Regions from separate parts of the Homo sapiens genome. Here regions 2, 3 and 4 are each reported to be linked to region 1. Evidence: microRNA targets listed by miRTarBase, many of them from high-throughput screens and not tested one by one. Region 1 holds a microRNA gene; each other region holds the end of a gene's coding sequence. Distances are between the middles of the regions.
What was found. Region 1 holds the annotated microRNA hsa-miR-3183 (GCCUCUCUCGGAGUCGCUCGGA, at 2,283-2,304, shown strand). A microRNA usually pairs through its seed, bases 2 to 8, with sites in the 3' UTR of a target mRNA and lowers its output. Matches are read on the target gene's strand: a 7mer-m8 pairs with bases 2 to 8, a 7mer-A1 pairs with bases 2 to 7 and ends in A, and an 8mer does both.

Region 2: miRTarBase lists CMKLR1 as a target of hsa-miR-3183. Seed matches in the 3' UTR shown: 7mer-A1 at 3,677-3,683, 7mer-m8 at 2,701-2,707, 7mer-A1 at 1,123-1,129 and 8mer at 502-509.
Region 3: the mRNA of ZNF286A is a reported target of hsa-miR-3183. Seed matches in the 3' UTR shown: 7mer-m8 at 2,445-2,451.
Region 4: miRTarBase lists ASIC4 as a target of hsa-miR-3183. Seed matches in the 3' UTR shown: 7mer-A1 at 4,507-4,513 and 7mer-A1 at 4,230-4,236.

The regions. Positions count from the first base shown.
Region 1 is chr17:1,019,833-1,024,832 of GRCh38, reverse strand. MIR3183 (microRNA 3183) reads left to right here and starts at 2,274; the gene lies at 2,274-2,357. The region is part of intron 16 of ABR (ABR activator of RhoGEF and GTPase); the gene reads left to right.
Region 2 is chr12:108,287,640-108,292,832 of GRCh38, forward strand. It overlaps CMKLR1 (chemerin chemokine-like receptor 1), which reads right to left. Exons shown (of 4, transcript NM_001142343.2): 4 at 407-5,193. The coding sequence ends at 4,202. Among named protein-coding and RNA genes, the nearest start is that of CMKLR1, 49 kb to the right of the region's middle.
Region 3 is chr17:15,716,486-15,721,678 of GRCh38, forward strand. ZNF286A (zinc finger protein 286A) reads left to right here. Exons shown (of 6, transcript NM_001130842.2): 6 at 1-4,302. The coding sequence ends at 805. ZNF286A-TBC1D26 (ZNF286A-TBC1D26 readthrough (NMD candidate)) reads left to right here. Exons shown (of 23, transcript NR_171000.1): 6 at 1-828. Among named protein-coding and RNA genes, the nearest start is that of TBC1D26, 13 kb to the right of the region's middle.
Region 4 is chr2:219,537,609-219,542,801 of GRCh38, reverse strand. ASIC4 (acid sensing ion channel subunit family member 4) reads right to left here. Exons shown (of 10, transcript NM_018674.6): 9 at 5,066-5,170; 10 at 4,030-4,869. The coding sequence ends at 4,756. It overlaps CHPF (chondroitin polymerizing factor), which reads left to right. Exons shown (of 4, transcript NM_024536.6): 2 at 613-1,186; 3 at 1,677-1,856; 4 at 2,160-3,848. The coding sequence ends at 3,419. Among named protein-coding and RNA genes, the nearest start is that of CHPF, 3.6 kb to the left of the region's middle. RefSeq lists enhancers at 4,028-4,583, 4,584-5,138.

The DNA of each region.
Region 1 (5,000 bases):
GTGTTTTGAATTTTGTTTTACATTTTTAATTTTTTTTTTTTTTTTTTTTGTGGGAGTCTCACTCTCTCGCCCAGGCTGGAGTGCAGTGGCACCATCTCGGCTCACTGCAGCCTCCATCTCCCAGGCTCAAGCAATCCTCCCACCTCAGCCTCCCAAGTAGCTGGGTCTACAGGCATGTACCAACATGCCTGGCTAATTTTTGTATTTTTTGTAAAGACGAGGTTTCGTTATGTTGCGCAGGCTGATGTTGAACTTCTGGCTTCAGTGGATCCACCTGCCTCCGCCTCCCACAGTGCTGGATTACAGGCGGGAGCCCCCGTGCCTGGCCCAGACTGTTTTTATATATGAGGAATGAGGCTCAGAGAGTGACTCAGATGAAGTCACGTGAGTGGCTTAGCCGAGGGGCGACGTTCAGACCCCGGCCACTCAGCCTCAGCGCAGGCTCTCACCCGCGGTGTCCTGCCTTCCGTGGCCGGTTGGGGTTGGGCTGCGTGCCCCAGATGGGAGCGTCTGGAGACGCCGGGCTCCTGCCCGTCAGGCATCAGTGTGGTGCCCGTCCTGGCACGCTGTGCATAGCAACAGGCAAGACGGTTCTTCTCGACGACGCCACTGAACGTGAGACTCGGAGCAAGGCAAGGCCTGGGAGGGGCCGCTCAGAGCTGACCTGGGCCCTGGAATTGCTGGAGCCCCTCACGTCCCCGGCAGCAAGCTCCATGCCCAGAAAGTGTTCTGGGCCCGGGCAGGGAGGGTGAAGCTGGTATCAGAGAAGGCTGTTGATGCTGCTTTTTTTTTTTTTTTTTTTTTTTTTGAGATGGAGTCTCGCTCTGTCGCCCAGGCTGGAGTACAATGGCACAATCTCGGCTCACCGCAACCTCCGCCTCCTGGGTTCAAGCGGTTCTCCTGCCTCAGCCCCCTGAGTAGCTGGGTTTACAGGCATGTGCCACCACGCCGGGGTAATTTTTGTATTTTTAGTAGAGACAGGGTTTCTCCATGTTGGCCAGGCTGGTCTCGAACTCCTGACCTCAGGTGATCCTCCCACCTAGGCCTCCCACAGTGCTGGGATTACAGGTGTGAACCACCGCGCCCAGCCCTGTTAATGTTTCTTAACCACTCCAGGTCCAGCTCGAGGCTTCAGAGCCCATGGAGGTCTGACAGGTCCTTGGCCTTCCCGTGGCCTCCAGCGTGAAGCTTCCTGGTCAGGACCACAGAAGGCCTCTCATCTTGGACTTTGACCTCTGAGGGCGCCCCTTTCCTTTCAGGACAGGGCCTCCGTGTTGCTTTGGCCCTGGCCTGTTCCTTTTCTCAAGAGGGCCCCACTGCCCCTGCCCTTGCCACTCTGGCATCCTCGACCTGCCCTGGGCTGGGGCAGGGCCGGCTTCCTGGCTGGTATTTGTAGCCCAGTTCTGAGCTGAAGCTGAAGCCTCCAGGCTGCCTGCACAGGGAGGCAGTGGTGGGGTGGGCTGGCCCTGAGGAAGACGGAGCCCTAGGCCGCTGGGGGAGATGTGCCTGGCTGTGGGGCCTCCAAGAGCAGCCCAGGTTTGGATTTTGTCTGCTTCTCCTCAAGGTCAGCCATGCCCAGCCCGGGGGCTAAAAGCAAAGTGGGTGCCAGGGCAGGCAGAGGCTCTGGAGTGGACGTGGGGCCGGCAGAGGCGCTGGAGTGGACGTGGGGCCGGCAGAGGCGCTGGAGTGGACGTGGGGCCGGCAGAGGCGCTGTAGTGGACGTGGGGCCGGCAGAGGCTCTGCAGTGGACGTGGGGCCGGCAGAGGCGCTGGAGCGGACGTGGGGCAGGCAGAGGCTCTGCAGTGGACGTGGGGCCGGCAGAGGCTCTGGAGCGGACGTGGGGCAGGCAGAGGTGCTAGAATGGACGCTGGGGAAGGCAGGTTGCTGCGGGTGCTAAGAGGCTAGCCTGCCTTGGACAAAAGCGTCGTTCAGAGCTGCTAATCCCCTTCCTCCCATGAGGCTTGGGGAACTTCGAAGTTCTCTGGTGTTGGAGGGGAAGCCAGCCGAGGCCCTGGGACACGGCATCAGCCCGAGCCTATCTGTGGCTGGCCTGGGTATGGCAGGTGGGCACACCTTGGCTGCAGGACACCTTGGCTACAAGGGAGCCTGGCTGACCCTGCAGGGTGAGGGCTGGAGAGGCGGAGCCTGCCTGGCCTAGCAGTGTGGATGCCAAGCCATGGGAAGATGTGTGGAGAGTTTATGGAGCCTGGCCCGGTGTCCCCAACCCAGCTGCTGAGCTGGAAGCCAGGGGTAGGTCCTGGCAGCCCCTCCCTCTCTGCCCTGCCTCTCTCGGAGTCGCTCGGAGCAGTCACGTTGACGGAATCCTCCGGCGCCTCCTCGAGGGAGGAGAGGCAGGGTCTTGGCAACTCCCGTCTCCCCCGTTGCCAGCTTGCCAGCCCCGCCGTGCCTCTCACGCCTGTGGTCTGCCCCAATGACAGGCCGGCTTCGGTGTCCCAAGGGGACCCAGCCCTGAGCGTGGGGCTGCCCTTGGGGGAGGGCAGGGGAAAGCCAGCCCGGGCTGCCACCGTGGCCGCTGGCCTGGGAGCCCCAGGAAACGTGCCCACCCTCAGACCCGATGCCTGGCTCAGGGCCTGGGCTCCGCGGCCCCTCCAGGGCAGGCGTGAAATGTGCCCACACAGCTCCACCTTCCACGTGGTTCCCTGTCCGGGGGCCACTTGCACTGAGGTCCTTCTGGAGTCATTTTCTGTTTTTTTTTTTTTTTTTTTGAGACAGAGTCTTGCTCTGTTGCCCAGGCTGGAGTGCAGTGGTGCTATCTTGGCTCACTGCAACCCCTGCCTCCCGGGTTCAAGTGATTTCCGGCTAATTTTGTATTTTTAGTAGAGATGGGGTTTCGTCAGGTTGGCCAGGCTGGTCTCGAACTCCTGAGCTCGAGTGATCCGCCCGCCTCTGCCTCCCAGAGTGCTGGGATTACAGGCATGAGCCACCGCGCCCGGCTGGGAGTCATTTTCTAGCGTTCCTGTCCCACCTCTCAGGAACAGATTTACCACCTTTGTTGTGAAGAAGCATTTTTTTTTTTTTTCTGCCGCCAGGCTGGAGTGCAGTGGCACAATCTCAACTCCGGCTCACTGCAACCTCCGCCTCCCGGGTTCAAGCGATTCTCCTGCCTCAGCCTCCCCAGTAGCTGGGATTACAGGCACCCGCCACCACGCCTGGCTAATTTTTGTATTTTTAGTAGAGACGGGGTTTCGCCACGTTGGTCAGGTTGGTCTCGATCTCCTGACCTTGTGATCCGCCCGCCTCGGCCTCCCAAAGTGCTGGGATGACAGGCGTGAGCCACCGCACCTGGCTGAAGAAGCACTTTTTTTTATGAACCTCTGCAACCCCCTCTGAGGGAAACCCTCCCGCATTCTGGGATGCCGGGGCTCAGAGGGTGGAGGGTAGAAGAGCGCCAGCCGTGAGAGGCAGGATGGGGCGGCCCCCGAGGGCAGGGCTGTGCCTGGAGGCAGGGCTCCTCGGGGGGTCAGCTCCTGGGCGGTGGGAGTGACCGAGTGGGCTCCTGAGGGAAGCGGCTTTCAGGAAGGAGGCGGAGGCCTGGGAGCTCTTGGGGCCCTGGCAAATGTGGTCTTCAGATTCCCGTCGTCCAGTGAGCCCCTGGATCACGTCCTGAGTGGCGTCCACTGAAGGCTGCTTGGGACCTCTGCTCCCCCCTCCACTGAGACCCCCAGTGGCCAGTTCTAAGTCCCACCTGCCTTGGGCAGGGCCACCACAGGCCCCTTACTGTGGATTAAAGGGCCCTGGGTGAGGGCTTGTGGGAGGGGAGGTGGTGGAAACCATCTCCGAAGACCTTGGGGCGAGCTGCGTGCTGGAGTGGAGAGTGTGGCCCAGCAGGCAGGAGCACTGGGTTGGAATGGGGGCTCTGCCACCTCCGAGGGAGCAGGAGTGGAGACCGGAGGGAGCGTGCCCCTGAATCCGAGCACGGGGAGCTGGCCGGGAGCAGCCCTCCGGGCAGAGGCAGGAGAAATGGGGTCACCTGCCCCAGGGGGTGAGAGGTGAGCCGAGAGGAAGGGCTGAGACCCTCAGGGGCATCCCCAGGATGTTCCTGAAACTCAGCCCTGGAGGACGCTCAGGTGTGCGTGGAGCACCCTCTGCCCTGGAGCCTCAAATCCTCTCCCCGCTGCGGGGCCACTTTGCTGATTCCTGCCCCAAACATGAGGTCACTTCGGTCCAGAAAGGCGAGGCGACCTCCACCAGCCACCTACGGGATTCTTGGCAGAGAATCCACGCTCACCTTCGGGTCTTCACTCCTGCTCCCTCGGAGGTGACGGAGCCCCATTTCAACCCGGTGCCCCTGCCTGCTGGGTTTTCGCCGCAGGGGACCTGGTCGTCTCCTGGACATGAGCCCCCAGCGCCAGCGTTTCTCTTTGGGAGAGGCCTGAATGCGCAGTCATGATTTGACCAGGCGAAGTGCCCAGACAAAGAGAAAACAGTCGGCCGGATGCAGGGGCTCACGCCTGGAATCCCAGCACTTTGGGAGGCCGAGGCGGGTGGATCACCTGAGGTCAGGAGTTGGAGACCAGCCTGGCCAACACGGTGAAACCCCGTCTCTACTAAAAATACAAAAATTAGCCGGGCGTGGTGGCTCGTGCCTGTAGCCCCAGCTACTCGGGAGGCTGAGGCAGGAGAATCGCTCGAACCCGAAGGTGGAGGTTGCAGTGAGCTGAGATCGCGCCACTGCACTCCAGCCTGGGCGACAGAGTGCGACTCCGTCTCAAAAAAAAAAAAGAAGGAAATAGTTGAGCTGCTCTCAGTGACCATGTACGGCCCAGTCGTCGACCCCTGGCCCAGTCGTTCGTCCGCCTTTTGGCTCCACGATGTTTTGCAGCCTGTTTCTGTCTCCTGCCTGTGGCCCACCTTGGGGAGGCCCCAGTGCTCGTGTGCCCCTGGTGGTCTTCCCAGCCTGACCCTTCACGAGCTCCCTCTGTCTCCCTGCTTCAGGTGATCAGACATCCCCCAAGTACCTGCTCCCCTGGGCCCATGGA
Region 2 (5,193 bases), not on the chromosome of region 1:
GAAAAGGTGAATGGATGAATGTGTCACAGGAGCATCTGTCCTTGGGCCACCTGATGCAGTGCCAAAGAGTATAGACCTGACCATGAGGAGGCCTGGCTTTATGTCCCTTATCTGCTAGGGTTTACTATATTATCTTGGGTGAGTAACTACCTCTTTCACATCCTCAGTTGCTAGAAAAGCAAAATAAGTGAAAAGAATTTTTTTCAAAATGCAAATTTCTTGGAGCTCGAAGGTTTGAGAATGGCAGGTTGGGGACTTCAGGGCTTCTCCTGCTGCCCACAACATAGCTCTGTGACTTTGCACTGGCCGCCTCACCTCTCTGAGCCTCAGCTGCTGTTCTGTGAAGTAAGTGAGGAAGGCAAAAGGGAGGTGATGGCAGGAACCCCCAGAACTGAGCCACACACTCTTGCTTCAGTCTCTTTATTCGAGAGAAACTTTGTCCTCAAAGGGAAGAAGTAAGAAGACCCCCTGCTGAATTATTTCACAGTAGAAATAGTAGATTCCTCTCTGGTCCTAGATACCACCCCCAGCAGCAATTTTCCAAACCCAGGATTTGGTAACCTTGGGCCTAGGGCATCCCAGCCCCAACAAGAGCATAACATGTTAGGGAGGAACGAGAGAGGGAGGCAGGGCAGGAGTTGAGGAATCACCGACCACTTTCATCCAAACCAGACACCACCTCGTTTTGCAGAGTCCTCAGGGGAAGCTCTCAAAACCTCAGTTCCCTCATCTGTGAAATGGGAGACATCTGGGCAAGATGAGTTTGAAGGTCCCTTATGGTTTTCACGATTGGATTCTATCTTCTCCCACCCATCCAGGCTCCCAACCCCACCAGAGCTGACTCTGGGGTCGAATTTGAGCCAATCCCCTCCCTTTGTCAGTGCCCAGTTTCCTCACCCCTTCTGAACCTTGCTGCCAGAATCTCTGTGCCTCTTCTCTGGAGAAGGACCCAGGAACCTGCAGGGCTCTGTGCGCTCTGGGAATTATCTAAGGCTGGCAAAGGCATCCCGGTGCTTGAGGCCCTTCGTGTTCTTGCTCTTCCCTTCTCCCTGTCCTTGCTGGCTCAAGGGTCAGCTGGAGATGGTTCTGAAATCAAATTCCTCCCACTCTTTGGACTTCCATTCCTCTCCCCTTCTCTCTTCTTTCTTTCTTCCTTGTCTTTTCCTTCTTCTTCTCCCCACCCTCTCCTTCCAAGGGCTGAAGAAGTTGGGCATTCAGGCAGCTGACCTGATTCAAAGCCCAGCTCCATACCTCACTAGCTGTGCAACTCTGAACTAGTGAAGTCTGTTCTTGAAACAGAAACTCACTTTCTGCACCCCCCCCCCACCTTGCTATGATGGTCCCCTTCTGCCAGGGCCAATTTGAGGTTTCAGTGTTTGTGCCTGAACCATCGTAGGTGCTTCATGAATGCCAGATCCCTTTCCTTCATCATCATGCTCTGGGACCTTTCTGTCCCCTCTCCTGTCCCTCCCCTATCCTCAAACACCATCTTCTTTTCTTTTCCCTCTACCTCTTGTCCTCACGATCCCTCAGCTCCCCCACCCCACCCAGGAGGCAGGGCTAAGTAAGGCCCCATCACTGAGTCCTGGGCCCAGAGAGAAGGCTCTGGGCACTAAGTATGTTGGTTGCCTGTGCAGCAGTGCAGGTGAGCACACTTTGCACACTGCAGGGACGATATATGCATGACCCATGGAGATGTTCACATGAAGCTGTGGGGACAAGACTGTATGGGATGTTAAGGCTGCATTTAAGTACTTGACAGGAACCTAAGTCAGAACAGGAAGACCCACAGAGCAGCCAGAAAGAGGGAGGCCAGACTCTAAGGAGGAAAACAGCCGGTTTGAATTGTGCTCCTGTTTATCAGCTTTTCCAATGACAACATGAATTCCTGGCTCCCCCATCCTGGCCTGGACTGCCAGAAGCCCAGGAAAAGCAGCATCCTACAAGCCAGGAGGGCCAAGGCGCTGACGACTGCTGCTGTGACCCGGGACAGGTCCCATCCCATCTCGTGCCTCAGTAAATGTGGGAAGAGGGGAGATGGGGGCCACTGAGCAATATTTAAAGCTCCCTTTTTGCTCTCAAACCGTCTATATTCAAACTCTTTAAAGCATTCAGAGGCTCCAGCTTGGGATCAATTCAGAGCTGCCTTGTCATAAGCATTAAGGCACAATAAGGGAAGGAACAGTTTGTCTCTTAATGAAGTGTGATTCCAAACAGCCCATGGCCTCGGGAACTCGCCCAGCGCGGGGTAGACATTGCATCTGTTCATTGCATCTTGTTGGAGAATCAGCTTAACAATGAAGGGACTTGGAAGAGAACAGAATGTGGACACTTAGGAGCCAAAGGGCCTCAGGCCCACAAGGGACTGCCTCCTGCCAGCTTTCCCTCCCCATTGCCTTGATCTCTGGAGACATAGGAGGTGGGAGCCACGGTAGGAGGCTGTTAATGGCTGTTGAGGGAGCTGGAAGCCAAGTGCATTTTCTCTGCCATGTTGCATCATTTTTGAAAACTATTTGCAAAGTTTCTTAAAGGCCATTAAGATGTTCATCCTCATTTGCAGAAAAATCAATATTTATGGCAAAAATCTCCAAACTTTTTAAGTCCTTCCCAACTCTGCAGCCTCATTTGAGCCAGGCAAACTGAAGTTCAAATCCAAGCTCCGGCAGAGACTAGCTGGGTACCTTTGGGCAAGTTACTTAACCTCTCTAAGCCTCAGATTCCTCCTATGTAAAAGGGAAGTTATAACCATACCTAACTCAGGGTTGCTGTAATGATTAAATGAGAAAACATATGTAAAGTGCATAATATAAAAAGTGCTAAATAAATGTAGGCTATCAATATACTAGAATAATCTCCACAGATAAATTCCAAATAGAAGAACAGAGTTTCTGGAGCCAGACGGAGCCAGGTTCAGATCTTAACTCTGCCACTGATTAGCTGTGTGATGCTGGGCAAGTTACTTTCCCCATCTGGGCCTCAGCTATGTCATTTGTAAATGGGGCTATGACACTCTGTGGCCACAGGGACGTGTCAGTATTAGATGAGAAAAGCCATGCCAGGCACCTGTATCCAGGAGGTATTTGGTGTCTGCAGCTCAGAAACACAGTTCAAGGAGTCCAGCTCCAGACTCTGTCTCAAGTGACTGAGTCCTCGGACATACTCTTCTTCCCAGGGGACTCTCCGGAGTTGCTTCCCAAAGCTGCATTTTGGACCTGTCTCCAAAGGCGTTGAGGAAATTAACCAGAATGAGAAGCCCCACCACCAGTGTTTTATTCTAAGCACCTCCAGCCAGAGCTGAGTGGATTAGGAAAGGCAGAAAAAAATCCCTGTGATGGGGTGAGGGCTGCTGGTGAAGATGCCTGCCACAACCCCACCCCCAGGTAAGAGGGGCAAGGTGAGATCAGGGGCTGGCACCACCCTGACGCCCCAAATAGCTCCAGCCTAAAGCACCATCAGCCTGCGATGTTCTAGGGTGAGCTGCTCCATGCCTGCATCCTTTAAAGGTTCTTTTCTCCTTTCTCATTTCTTTGCCAAATCTCAAGTCCTCGTTGCATCCCTCACTTGTCTTGCCCTTGCAAAGAGCCCACAGGACCTCTCAGGACCAGTTCTCTGTCTTCCTAGCTGATCCGAAAGCCAAATTCATGGCCTATGGAGTTCATGGGCTGATATGTCACCTTCCTCTCCCAGATCACCTATGCATTTCCACATACTTTAACACAGAGCAGTGACTTGAAGGTAGGGTTTTCTGGCCAGCTACTGATAATATATATACAAGGGCCAAGTGTGATCTGCATCACACTGGGTTTGCTCTGACCCCCTCACTGCTCACACCAGGAATGGACCTTGGAGAGTGTCATTTCTGGGGCACACACAATAGGCAGCTTAATCCCACCGCCCTATGCCAATCCCAGTTCATGGCAATGCTTTTGAGAATTCTTCCTTTTTTGCTTTGAGTCAGTCAAGGCTGGCCTCCCAAGAAGCATAAATTGCTAGTCCAAGGCTGTATGGAACACAGCATGTTCTGTCCACTAGAAGAAAGGGGTTCCAGGCCCTAGATTCCCAGCATAAAACACTGTTCATCCCATGCAAAATGCAGTGAAAATTGGTGGATGCTAAAGAGGTTCTTGCCTTGATCTTCAGAAGACATATCCTTGGGTGTCCCTGGGTTGAGAGAGTCCATTGAGGGGTTCCACAGTGAGGATCAAAGCATGCCGGTCTCCCTCTCATTCATAGAAGTCCTCTCATTCATTGATGACATCTTGGTAAAGCTTCTATGGCTGGGGTAGGAAGAGTGGCCTGTATCTTCACTTAGAGCATTGACCAGGCGAGAGAAGAGGGCCACCTTGAACTTCTTGAAGTCCTGACCCATGAAAACATACAGAATGGGGTTCATGCAGCTGTTGGCAATGGCAAGGGCAGTGGCCAGGGGCAAACCCAGGCTGAAGACAGAGCCAGGCATGGCAGTGTGGTGGAGCTCTAGGAGGTTGAGTGTGTGGTAGGGGCACCAGCAGAGGAAGAAGGTAATGATGATGGTCACAATAATCTTGAAGGGCTTCTTGGTCTTGGCCAGGCGGTTGCGCTGCAGTTTGCACACGATGGTGAGGTAGCAAGCTGTGATGATGAGGACTGGGACCAGGAAGCCACAGAGGAAGCGGGTGACAGTCACCACCATGTGCCGGCTATACCCCACAGGGTCCATTTGGGAGTGAGTGGGCCACGAGGAAGACCCAGGTGTGGACAGGCTGAAGTTGTTGAAGCAGGATATTTTCCCATGCAGGTTGGCTGTGTCCCGGAAGACGAGAGATGGGGAACTCAAGAAGAAAGCCAGGACCCAGATGACCATGCAGGCCATGTAAGCCAGGCGAACGCTGCGGTGGTTCTGGGACCAGACAGGGAGGAGCACAGAGATGCAGCGGTCAGAGCTGATGATGGTCAGCAGGAAGACGCTGGTGAACATGTTGTGGATGAGAAGGAAGTTGCTGATCTTGCACATGGCTGTCCCGAAAACCCAGTGGTAGTCCATGGCGGCATAGGTGATATGGATTGGGAGGAAGACGTTGAACAGGAAATCTGCCACTGCCAGGTTGAGGAACCAGACCATGTTCACTGTCTTCTTCATCTTGAAGGTGGCAATGATGATCACCAGACCATTGCCCAGAATCCCGAGGAAGCAGACGATGCTGTAGACCACCA
Region 3 (5,193 bases), 15 Mb from region 1:
CCATTCAGTGCTTATTCGACACCAGAGAGTCCATACTGGAGAGAAACCCTATACCTGCAATGAATGTGGGAAATCTTTTAGCCACAGAGCTAATTTAACTAAACACCAGAGAACTCATACTAGAATTCTCTTTGAATGCAGTGAATGCAAGAAAACCTTCACAGAAAGCTCATCCCTTGCAACACATCAGAGAATTCACGTTGGAGAGAGACCTTATGAATGCAATGAATGTGGGAAAGGTTTTAATCGAAGTACACATCTTGTGCAGCATCAGTTGATTCATACTGGAGTGAAGCCTTATGAATGTAATGAATGTGATAAAGCTTTTATTCATTCATCAGCACTCATTAAACATCAAAGAACTCATACTGGAGAGAAACCTTATAAATGTCAAGAATGTGGGAAAGCCTTTAGCCATTGCTCATCCCTAACTAAGCATCAGAGAGTTCATACTGGAGAAAAGCCATATGAATGCAGTGAATGTGGAAAAACTTTTAGTCAGAGCACACATCTTGTTCAACATCAGAGAATTCACACTGGAGAGAAACCCTATGAGTGTAATGAATGTGGGAAAACCTTCAGCCGGAGCTCCAATTTTGCTAAACATCAAAGAATTCATATTGGAAAGAAACCGTACAAATGTAGCGAGTGTGGAAAAGCCTTCATTCATTCATCAGCTCTCATTCAACATCAGAGAACTCATACCGGAGAGAAACCCTTTAGATGTAATGAGTGTGGGAAAAGCTTTAAGTGCAGTTCATCTCTCATCAGACATCAAAGAGTTCACACTGAAGAGCAACCCTGAAAAATTACTGAATGTGAAGAAATGTAAGTTGGTTTTATCACTGTATTAAATACTTGAGTGTTTAGGTGGAAGGCGCATCCATAATATGCATGTGAGGACCAATTCTGTATGCATCTAATTTCATTTGCGTAATACATAGTTTTGAGCCATAAGCAGGTTCTTTATGTCCGTTAATTTGATAATTATGAAATCTAGCCAGCGATTTCAAAATTTTAATCTCCAACGTCCCAAATAGCTATCTGTGGAAATTCAAGAAGTCCCTGAGAGTAGGTAGCAGTACGAACATTGTGAAATCCAGTTTTCCCCTCTCTTGTTTATGTCAGAGCTTTGTTGTAAGCCTCTCACTTTGTAAGGAAATTCTTATTGGGTAGGTTAGGCTGAGGGCTTACATCCTTATCATCAGGAAGACACAATGTTGTTATTTATTACTCCTTGAGATCTAGATACACATATGGTATAATTCATCTAGAGTGTAATTTCTTTTATATTAGCCTTAAAAACCAAAAATGCTGGGTTCAAAGTCCTTAGAATTCCCTTCCTCCCTCAACAAGCTGCTGTCTATGTTGATGACCATAACTGGGATGTATAATATTTACAGACAACTCTAAGTTACGTTCACATGGATTATGTACATCATTGATTTTTTTTTTTTTTTTTTTTTGAGACAGAGTCTTGCTCTGTTGCCCGGGCTGGAGTGCAGTGGCGCGATCTCGGCTCACTGCAACCTCCACCTCCCAGGTTCATGCCATTCTCTTGTCTCAGCCTCCCAAGTAGCTGGGACTACAGGCACCTGCCAGTACGCCTGGCTAATTTTTTTTGTATTTTTAGTAGAGATGGGGTTTCACCATGTTAGCCAGGATGGTCTTGATCTCCTGACCTCGTGATCTGCCTGCCTCGGCCTCCCAAAGTGCTGGGATTACAGGCATGAGCCACCATGCCTGGCATCATCATTGATTTATGTCATTGTTATCCCTCTACCGCGGAGACCTTCTTTCATTTTCCATTTCCCTGGGAGTTCACGTGAAGTAGTGAATGGGTCAAAATCTTAACAGTGGTTGTTGATCAAGTCCTTCCTTTCTTATCCTTGGCACTGAATAAATCTTTGGTTTTCCATAATCAAAGGGTGAGGGAGACTTCTTTTGTCTACATTATTCAGCTTTCTGAAAGCTATGCTGTGTCCATTTGAGAAAAAGCCCCAGGGATATTGAAGGTCTGAGAAGTTGAGTGGTTCAGTGTGTTATTATATTTAGGGTCCCAGTAAAGAAGAACTGAAGCAACTGTGAGACACCAGGGCATACTTCCCTGTATGAGTGGAAAACAAGGCACGGAAAATAGCTCACAGGATAGTCCTCAACTGACTTGCTTGAGGATAAGCAGCTTCCCTTCGTGAAGAAGTTGCCATTTCTCTGGCCTTCATATTTATCTACTTTTTGTTATTGTTGTCTGTATCGGTTCAATCTCACACTGCTATAAAGAAATGCCTGAGACTGGGTAACTTATAAAGAAAAAAGGTTTAATTGGCTCATGGTTCCATGGGCTGTACAGGAAGTATGACTGGGGAGGTCTCAGGGAGCTTTTACTCATGGCAAAAGGCAAAGCCAGAGCAGGTATCTTCACAGGGCTAGAGCAAGAGGAAAAGAGAGAGGGGAGGTGCTACACACTTTTTATGCAACCAAATCTCATGAGAACTCTATCACGAGACAGCAGTAGGGGGACAGTGCTAAATCATTCATGAGAAACTACCTGCGTGGTCCAGTCACCTTGCACCAGGCCCCACCTCCCACATTGGGGATTACAATTAAACATGAGATTTGGGTGGGGATACAGATCTAAACTGTATCATTACTCAAAAAAAAAAAAAAAAAGAAAGAAAAGAAAACACAGGAAAAGGAACTCACCTCTTTTATCATCTTAGTATTTAGTACTAATGGTTTAGAGCAGGAATTGACAAACTGTGGCCTGGACTCATGGACCAACTCTGGCCCACCACCTGTTTCTCAGAAGAAAATTTTATTGGAACTCAGCCACACTTACTCATTTACATGTTGTCCTTGACTGCCTTTGTGTCCAGTGTCAGAACTGAGTAGCTGCAGCGGAGGTTGTGCCTCTGGGCTTTAATATCACAAACAGAGCAGCTTATAAGCAACAGAAACTTACTTCTCACAGTTTTGGAGGCTGGGAAGTCCAAGATCAAGGTGTCAACATATTTAGGGTCTAGGGAAGGTCTGCTTCTTGGTTAATAGAAAGCACCTTTCACTGTGTCTTCACATGGTAGAAGGGGAGAGCTCTGGTATCTTCAGCCCCTTATAAGGGCACTAATCCCATTCATGAGAGCTCCACCCTCACGACCTAATCACCTCCAAAAGGCCCCATTTCGTAATACCGTCAGTTAAGTTTCATTATATGACTTTGATGGGGATATAGCCCATAGTAGGTTGTATGTCCCTGAAAGCCTAAAATATTTACTGTTTGGCTCTTTACAGAAAATATTTTCTTGGCCCCTGTTCCAGAGCATTCATCAAGTCAGATAAAGGGTTTAAACCAGTCAGAGAAACTAGGTGGAATGGAAAAGTACTGAGAGATAATTGGGGACAGAAAAATAAAAGAGATGGGAAATGCTGCATCAAAATACTCCTACCTCTAGGATGTTACTATATATTGTTAGGAGAATTCAAGTTATTGAAACTTGCCAAATTCTTGAGTGAAGAGGAATTCATTTGAGAGCCAAAATTTGACTAAGGAAAGAAGACCAACATGGGCTTTCCAAAGTTGAGTTTGAATTCTGCCATCCCCACTAAGCAGTCATGTGACCTTGGAAAAACTCCCTACTCTGAGTCTCAGTTTCTTTATCTGTATTAGGTTTCAACAAAGGGAATAAATCATTGGCTTCTCATGAGGTTGTCATAAGGATTAAATAAGACAATGCATATAAAAGAACTGGCAGACAATAAATATAGAGTCCCCCACTCCTGCTTGGTGCTCTCTTTCTCTCTCCTTCTCTACATAGAGAAGTGCCAGAGCATCCGTCAGTAGAAGTTACTTAAGGTTGGCTGTGTCTTCCACATCTTTTGTTTACCCATGAAGAACTGTGACCATCTTGTTCTGTGTCTTGTCATAAAGATGGGACGTGACTTCTTTCTGCTCTTGCTTCCATCTGGTGCTGTTTTCTGCACAGCCTCCTTGAGACCTTCCAGAACCTTCTTTTTTCCTACTTCATATCACTTAACCAGTAGCTATCTGGGATGGTTCCAGAGGCTGAAGTTTGCAGTTGAATAACATTTTAAATAGTGTTAAGCGACTTGGGATCTCTGGCCCTTTGCGTTTCAGTATTTGTCCTTTTTATGCCTGATGTTTAACCTGCCACATGTTTGTACTGCAACATGAATCTTGGAAATTTTAATGTTATGCATTTCAAATGTTTTTGGTTATCTGTAAACTAAATGTGCCCTTATTGGCTCACTTGTCAATAAAGATGTTTGTATATGTATTGTCAGAAACTTTTGTAAATTGCTTTTAAATTCTTCCTTTTTTAAAGCATATTTTAAGATGTAATGAAGGACCAACCAAAAAATATCTCCATATCATTCAGGATACCAATCCCATTTCTAGCTGGTCATCTGGCTTCACAACTTCTGGAGAGATGGGATGGGAGATACCGTCAGCAACCCAAGTATCTGCAAGAAGGTTAAGGAGTAGAGGAAGATAGTTTCTAACAAGTAGTACTGAGTCCCCAGGCCAGGTATAGGCACTACTCAGTAGGGCTAATTGGGGTGAAAGGGAGGGAATAACTTCGTATAAAAAGCACAGTTAAAATTAGGCAAAATGGGCCAGGTGCGGTGGTTCAAGCCTGTAATCCCAGCACTTTGGGAGGCTGAGGGAGGCAGATCACCTGAGGTCAGGAGCTCGAGACCAGCCTGACCAACATGGAGAAACCCCATCTCTACTAAAAATACAAAATTAGCCAGGCATGGTGACACATGGCTGTAATCCCAGCTACTCGGGAGGCTGAGTCAGGAGAATCACTTGAACCCGGGAGGCAGAGGTTGCAGTGAGCCAAGATAGTGCCATTGCACTCCAGCCTGGACAACAAGAGCGAAACTCCATCTCAAAAAAAAAAAAAAAAAAAATTAGGTAAAATGTCATAAAAATCTTATTTTGTGTAACTTTTCAATTATATCTGGTTTGGGGGAAGACAATGTAATATCACCCAAAAGTATAAAAGTGATAATGTAAGAATACTAAATATTCAAATTGATTGGCAATTAACTAGATCAATTATCTATTGAAAATTTGTCATAGTTTTTATTTTCTTAGATGTGTTCTCACTTTTAAAAATATGTGTTTATCGGTTGGGCGCGGTGGCTCACGCCTGTAATCCCAGCACTTTG
Region 4 (5,193 bases), not on the chromosome of region 1:
ATGTACCTATCTCATTAATGTCTCTGCTGATGAGTTGAAATAACTTCTAAGTAACATTGGGTTCAAATGCTGGTTCTGCAATTTACCTTCTGCCTTACCAAAAGGTAAGTTCCTAGAGCCCCTGAGTGCAGTTTGCCCCTCCCCGCAAAAACACTCAGTACACCCCTATGCCAAACGTTCCTTTATGTCATTTATGTGAGGCATTTGTGGCATAATGGCATATTTATATAGAAATGAGTAGATACATGGTGTGTCCAGCGTTTGGCTGGGTGCTTTAAACAGATATAATCAGTCCCATTTTACAGATGGCTCAGGTTAAATAACATGCTCAAGGACATAACTACTAAGTAGCGAACCCCGGAGTCAGACCCACAATATCTCTCTCCTATCTGGGTGGGTATTGCCATCTCCCAAATGCAAAGCACTACCTGTTTAAGACCATTTCGTTTAAATCCTCATGACCCCTGGGAGAGAGGGTTTATTTTTAACCTATTCATAGGTGAGAGAACAGATACAGAGAAGACGTGACCTGCCAGGGTCTGTGCTGACCACCTCCCCCCCACCCCCCGCCCCGTTGTCCTTTTGATAAGCTTGTGCCATCTCCTCCCCTAGGACCCGCTACATCAGCACGGAGCTGGGCATCAGGCAGAGGCTGCTGGTGGCGGTGCTGACCTCTCAGACCACGCTGCCCACGCTGGGCGTGGCCGTGAACCGCACGCTGGGGCACCGGCTGGAGCGTGTGGTGTTCCTGACGGGCGCACGGGGCCGCCGGGCCCCACCTGGCATGGCAGTGGTGACGCTAGGCGAGGAGCGACCCATTGGACACCTGCACCTGGCGCTGCGCCACCTGCTGGAGCAGCACGGCGACGACTTTGACTGGTTCTTCCTGGTGCCTGACACCACCTACACCGAGGCGCACGGCCTGGCACGCCTAACTGGCCACCTCAGCCTGGCCTCCGCCGCCCACCTGTACCTGGGCCGGCCCCAGGACTTCATCGGCGGAGAGCCCACCCCCGGCCGCTACTGCCACGGAGGCTTTGGGGTGCTGCTGTCGCGCATGCTGCTGCAACAACTGCGCCCCCACCTGGAAGGCTGCCGCAACGACATCGTCAGTGCGCGCCCTGACGAGTGGCTGGGTCGCTGCATTCTCGATGCCACCGGGGTGGGCTGCACTGGTGACCACGAGGTGGGATGATAAGCTATCCCACTGATACCTCCTTGTCATGTTCAAATCCCTCTGAGAGGCAAAGGGATGTTGGAGATACAGGTCTGCTTTTCCATGCCAATTCGGACATTTATTTTCTATCTCTGTGACCCCCAGTAAATTACTAAATATCCTGGGCTTCAGTATCTTCCTTTGTGCCAATGGAAATAATTATTGCTCGGGGTTGTTACAAGGATTAGAAAAAATCAGGGAGCCTTGTACATAATAGGCATTTGATGTTAGTTATTATTTTAGCCCTTGGACAGCTCTGAGACAGGACGCATGCCCATTTCGCAGATGAGCTAGCGGAGGCATGCTGAAGGTCACACAGACTCACAACTGGTCAAGGTAGACTTAAACCCTCAGACTGCAAGTCCACAACAGGTCATAGGCTGAGGAGATGAGACACTTACTATGAGACAACGGAAGACAATGCCAGCTCATCACAGATCCCTTCCCTTCCTCTCCCCAGGGGGTGCACTATAGCCATCTGGAGCTGAGCCCTGGGGAGCCAGTGCAGGAGGGGGACCCTCATTTCCGAAGTGCCCTGACAGCCCACCCTGTGCGTGACCCTGTGCACATGTACCAGCTGCACAAAGCTTTCGCCCGAGCTGAACTGGAACGCACGTACCAGGAGATCCAGGAGTTACAGGTATGGTCTAGGTCTGGGGGTGGCAGAGTGACGGGGACAGGATCTGAGAAGTCACAGAGAGCCCAGAGAAATGACAAGTTAGCACTAGAATCACAGAACAAAACTACTTCCCAGCCCCTGCCTGTTTCTACATTCTCTGATGAGCCTCTTGGCTGTCTATGCTGGGGAAATGATAGGTATGGGCAGAGGTTGGCAGGGGATGAGGGGCCCATCCTGAGTGGCACCTACTGCCTACCCAGTCCCCCAGCTGTGTGCTGCTCCCTGTAATCTGTCCCTTGCTGATGGCCTGTTTCTCTGATCCAGTGGGAGATCCAGAATACCAGCCATCTGGCCGTTGATGGGGACCAGGCAGCTGCTTGGCCCGTGGGTATTCCAGCACCATCCCGCCCGGCCTCCCGCTTTGAGGTGCTGCGCTGGGACTACTTCACGGAGCAGCACGCTTTCTCCTGCGCCGATGGCTCACCCCGCTGCCCACTGCGTGGGGCTGACCGGGCTGATGTGGCCGATGTTCTGGGGACAGCTCTAGAGGAGCTGAACCGCCGCTACCACCCGGCCTTGCGGCTCCAGAAGCAGCAGCTGGTGAATGGCTACCGACGCTTTGATCCGGCCCGGGGTATGGAATACACGCTGGACTTGCAGCTGGAGGCACTGACCCCCCAGGGAGGCCGCCGGCCCCTCACTCGCCGAGTGCAGCTGCTCCGGCCGCTGAGCCGCGTGGAGATCTTGCCTGTGCCCTATGTCACTGAGGCCTCACGTCTCACTGTGCTGCTGCCTCTAGCTGCGGCTGAGCGTGACCTGGCCCCTGGCTTCTTGGAGGCCTTTGCCACTGCAGCACTGGAGCCTGGTGATGCTGCGGCAGCCCTGACCCTGCTGCTACTGTATGAGCCGCGCCAGGCCCAGCGCGTGGCCCATGCAGATGTCTTCGCACCTGTCAAGGCCCACGTGGCAGAGCTGGAGCGGCGTTTCCCCGGTGCCCGGGTGCCATGGCTCAGTGTGCAGACAGCCGCACCCTCACCACTGCGCCTCATGGATCTACTCTCCAAGAAGCACCCGCTGGACACACTGTTCCTGCTGGCCGGGCCAGACACGGTGCTCACGCCTGACTTCCTGAACCGCTGCCGCATGCATGCCATCTCCGGCTGGCAGGCCTTCTTTCCCATGCATTTCCAAGCCTTCCACCCAGCTGTGGCCCCACCACAAGGGCCTGGGCCCCCAGAGCTGGGCCGTGACACTGGCCGCTTTGATCGCCAGGCAGCCAGCGAGGCCTGCTTCTACAACTCCGACTATGTGGCAGCCCGTGGGCGCCTGGCGGCAGCCTCAGAACAAGAAGAGGAGCTGCTGGAGAGCCTGGATGTGTACGAGCTGTTCCTCCACTTCTCCAGTCTGCATGTGCTGCGGGCGGTGGAGCCGGCGCTGCTGCAGCGCTACCGGGCCCAGACGTGCAGCGCGAGGCTCAGTGAGGACCTGTACCACCGCTGCCTCCAGAGCGTGCTTGAGGGCCTCGGCTCCCGAACCCAGCTGGCCATGCTACTCTTTGAACAGGAGCAGGGCAACAGCACCTGACCCCACCCTGTCCCCGTGGGCCGTGGCATGGCCACACCCCACCCCACTTCTCCCCCAAAACCAGAGCCACCTGCCAGCCTCGCTGGGCAGGGCTGGCCGTAGCCAGACCCCAAGCTGGCCCACTGGTCCCCTCTCTGGCTCTGTGGGTCCCTGGGCTCTGGACAAGCACTGGGGGACGTGCCCCCAGAGCCACCCACTTCTCATCCCAAACCCAGTTTCCCTGCCCCCTGACGCTGCTGATTCGGGCTGTGGCCTCCACGTATTTATGCAGTACAGTCTGCCTGACGCCAGCCCTGCCTCTGGGCCCTGGGGGCTGGGCTGTAGAAGAGTTGTTGGGGAAGGAGGGAGCTGAGGAGGGGGCATCTCCCAACTTCTCCCTTTTGGACCCTGCCGAAGCTCCCTGCCTTTAATAAACTGGCCAAGTGTGGACTTGTGATTCAGAGGTTTTGAAAAGGTAGGCAGGCGTGGGGGAGGGAGGACTGGCTGAGCACCACAGGCTCCCCTGCCCCTGCTGGGGCCTGCCTTTCCTTTCACCCGGGACCAAGTCATGCATGTGCCCAGCCTCACCCCGGCCCCCAGTGCGTGCTTGGTCACACATACACACAGAGAATTCTTTATGCCTCTTTATTCCCAATCTCGTCAGCACTTTATAAAATCAGACTGGAGGGAGAGAGGACTGAGAAGGCTCCCTTCCCACCCTCCAAGCTCAGCCGAAGTCTGGAAGGTCTCCTGCCCCCTCCCTATAGAAGGGACTCTAGGGGTGGGGCTGGTGCAGGGGGAACTGGGAGCTGGGCCAGGCCTGCTGGGCCATCCTCTCCCCCTGCCAAGAGGGGAGCTGGGCCTGGAGAGGGGCAGGAAGTAGGACCAGCCCAGCACTCCTGAGTCCTGGGGCTCTCCCTATCCTGCTGACATTGGGGCTGGGACCCTGGCTGTCCCTAAATCACCCACCCCTGTAGCCCTACCCACCTTCTACATCTGTATCCCCTCCCCCCACCCGGCTTTCCCTAAATATTTACAAATGTACAGAGGGCTCCCCCTCCCCGGCTGGGATGGGCTCTATCCTCCCCCTCCCTCTCCTTCCTTCCCTTCCTCTCCGTGAGGGCCCATGGCCTGGTCTCCAGCCCTCCCGGGGCACCAGCCTGGGGATAAGGGGTGTGGACAAGAAGGACCTTTGTGCAAAGCAGCTGACATCAGGGCAGGGGAGGATGAGAGCAGGAACTGAGTCCTGGCCCTCCCAGTGAGCACCGCCCCCAGGCCTCTCCCAGGAGCAGGAGAATGTGCTGGGGATCCCAGGAGGGGTCCCAGACTCCTGGGTCCTTTCAGTCACAGCACCGTCCTAGCAAGCAAAATCTTCAAAGAGACCTCCTGGGGGACCGTGGGGGTGGTGGTGATTGGGGAGCAGACTGCTGACCCCCCCACCCTCCACTCGGCCCCGGCTCGGGCAGGGACTCTGCAGGAGAAAGAAAAGAGAGAGTGGGACCGGGAGAGCTCAAGTGGTGCCCCCAGGGCTCACACCGCCAGCCTTTCCTTGTCACCTCGGGCAGAGGCTCCAGGGCCCCCTCCACAGGCTGGTTCAGAAACAATGGATGTATTCAGTCCTGGGGAGGTGTGGCTGCATGCTGCAGGCATTTAGAGCTTGTCCTCACCTGTTCCTTCAGCTCCTGAAGCCCCAAAGTGGAGATGCCCCCAGTGGAGGTCCGCAGGGGGGTCTTGGGACGCCTCCATACCCGCTTCAGTCGATCCCAGGACACCTTGGGGTTCAGGGTCGGGGACA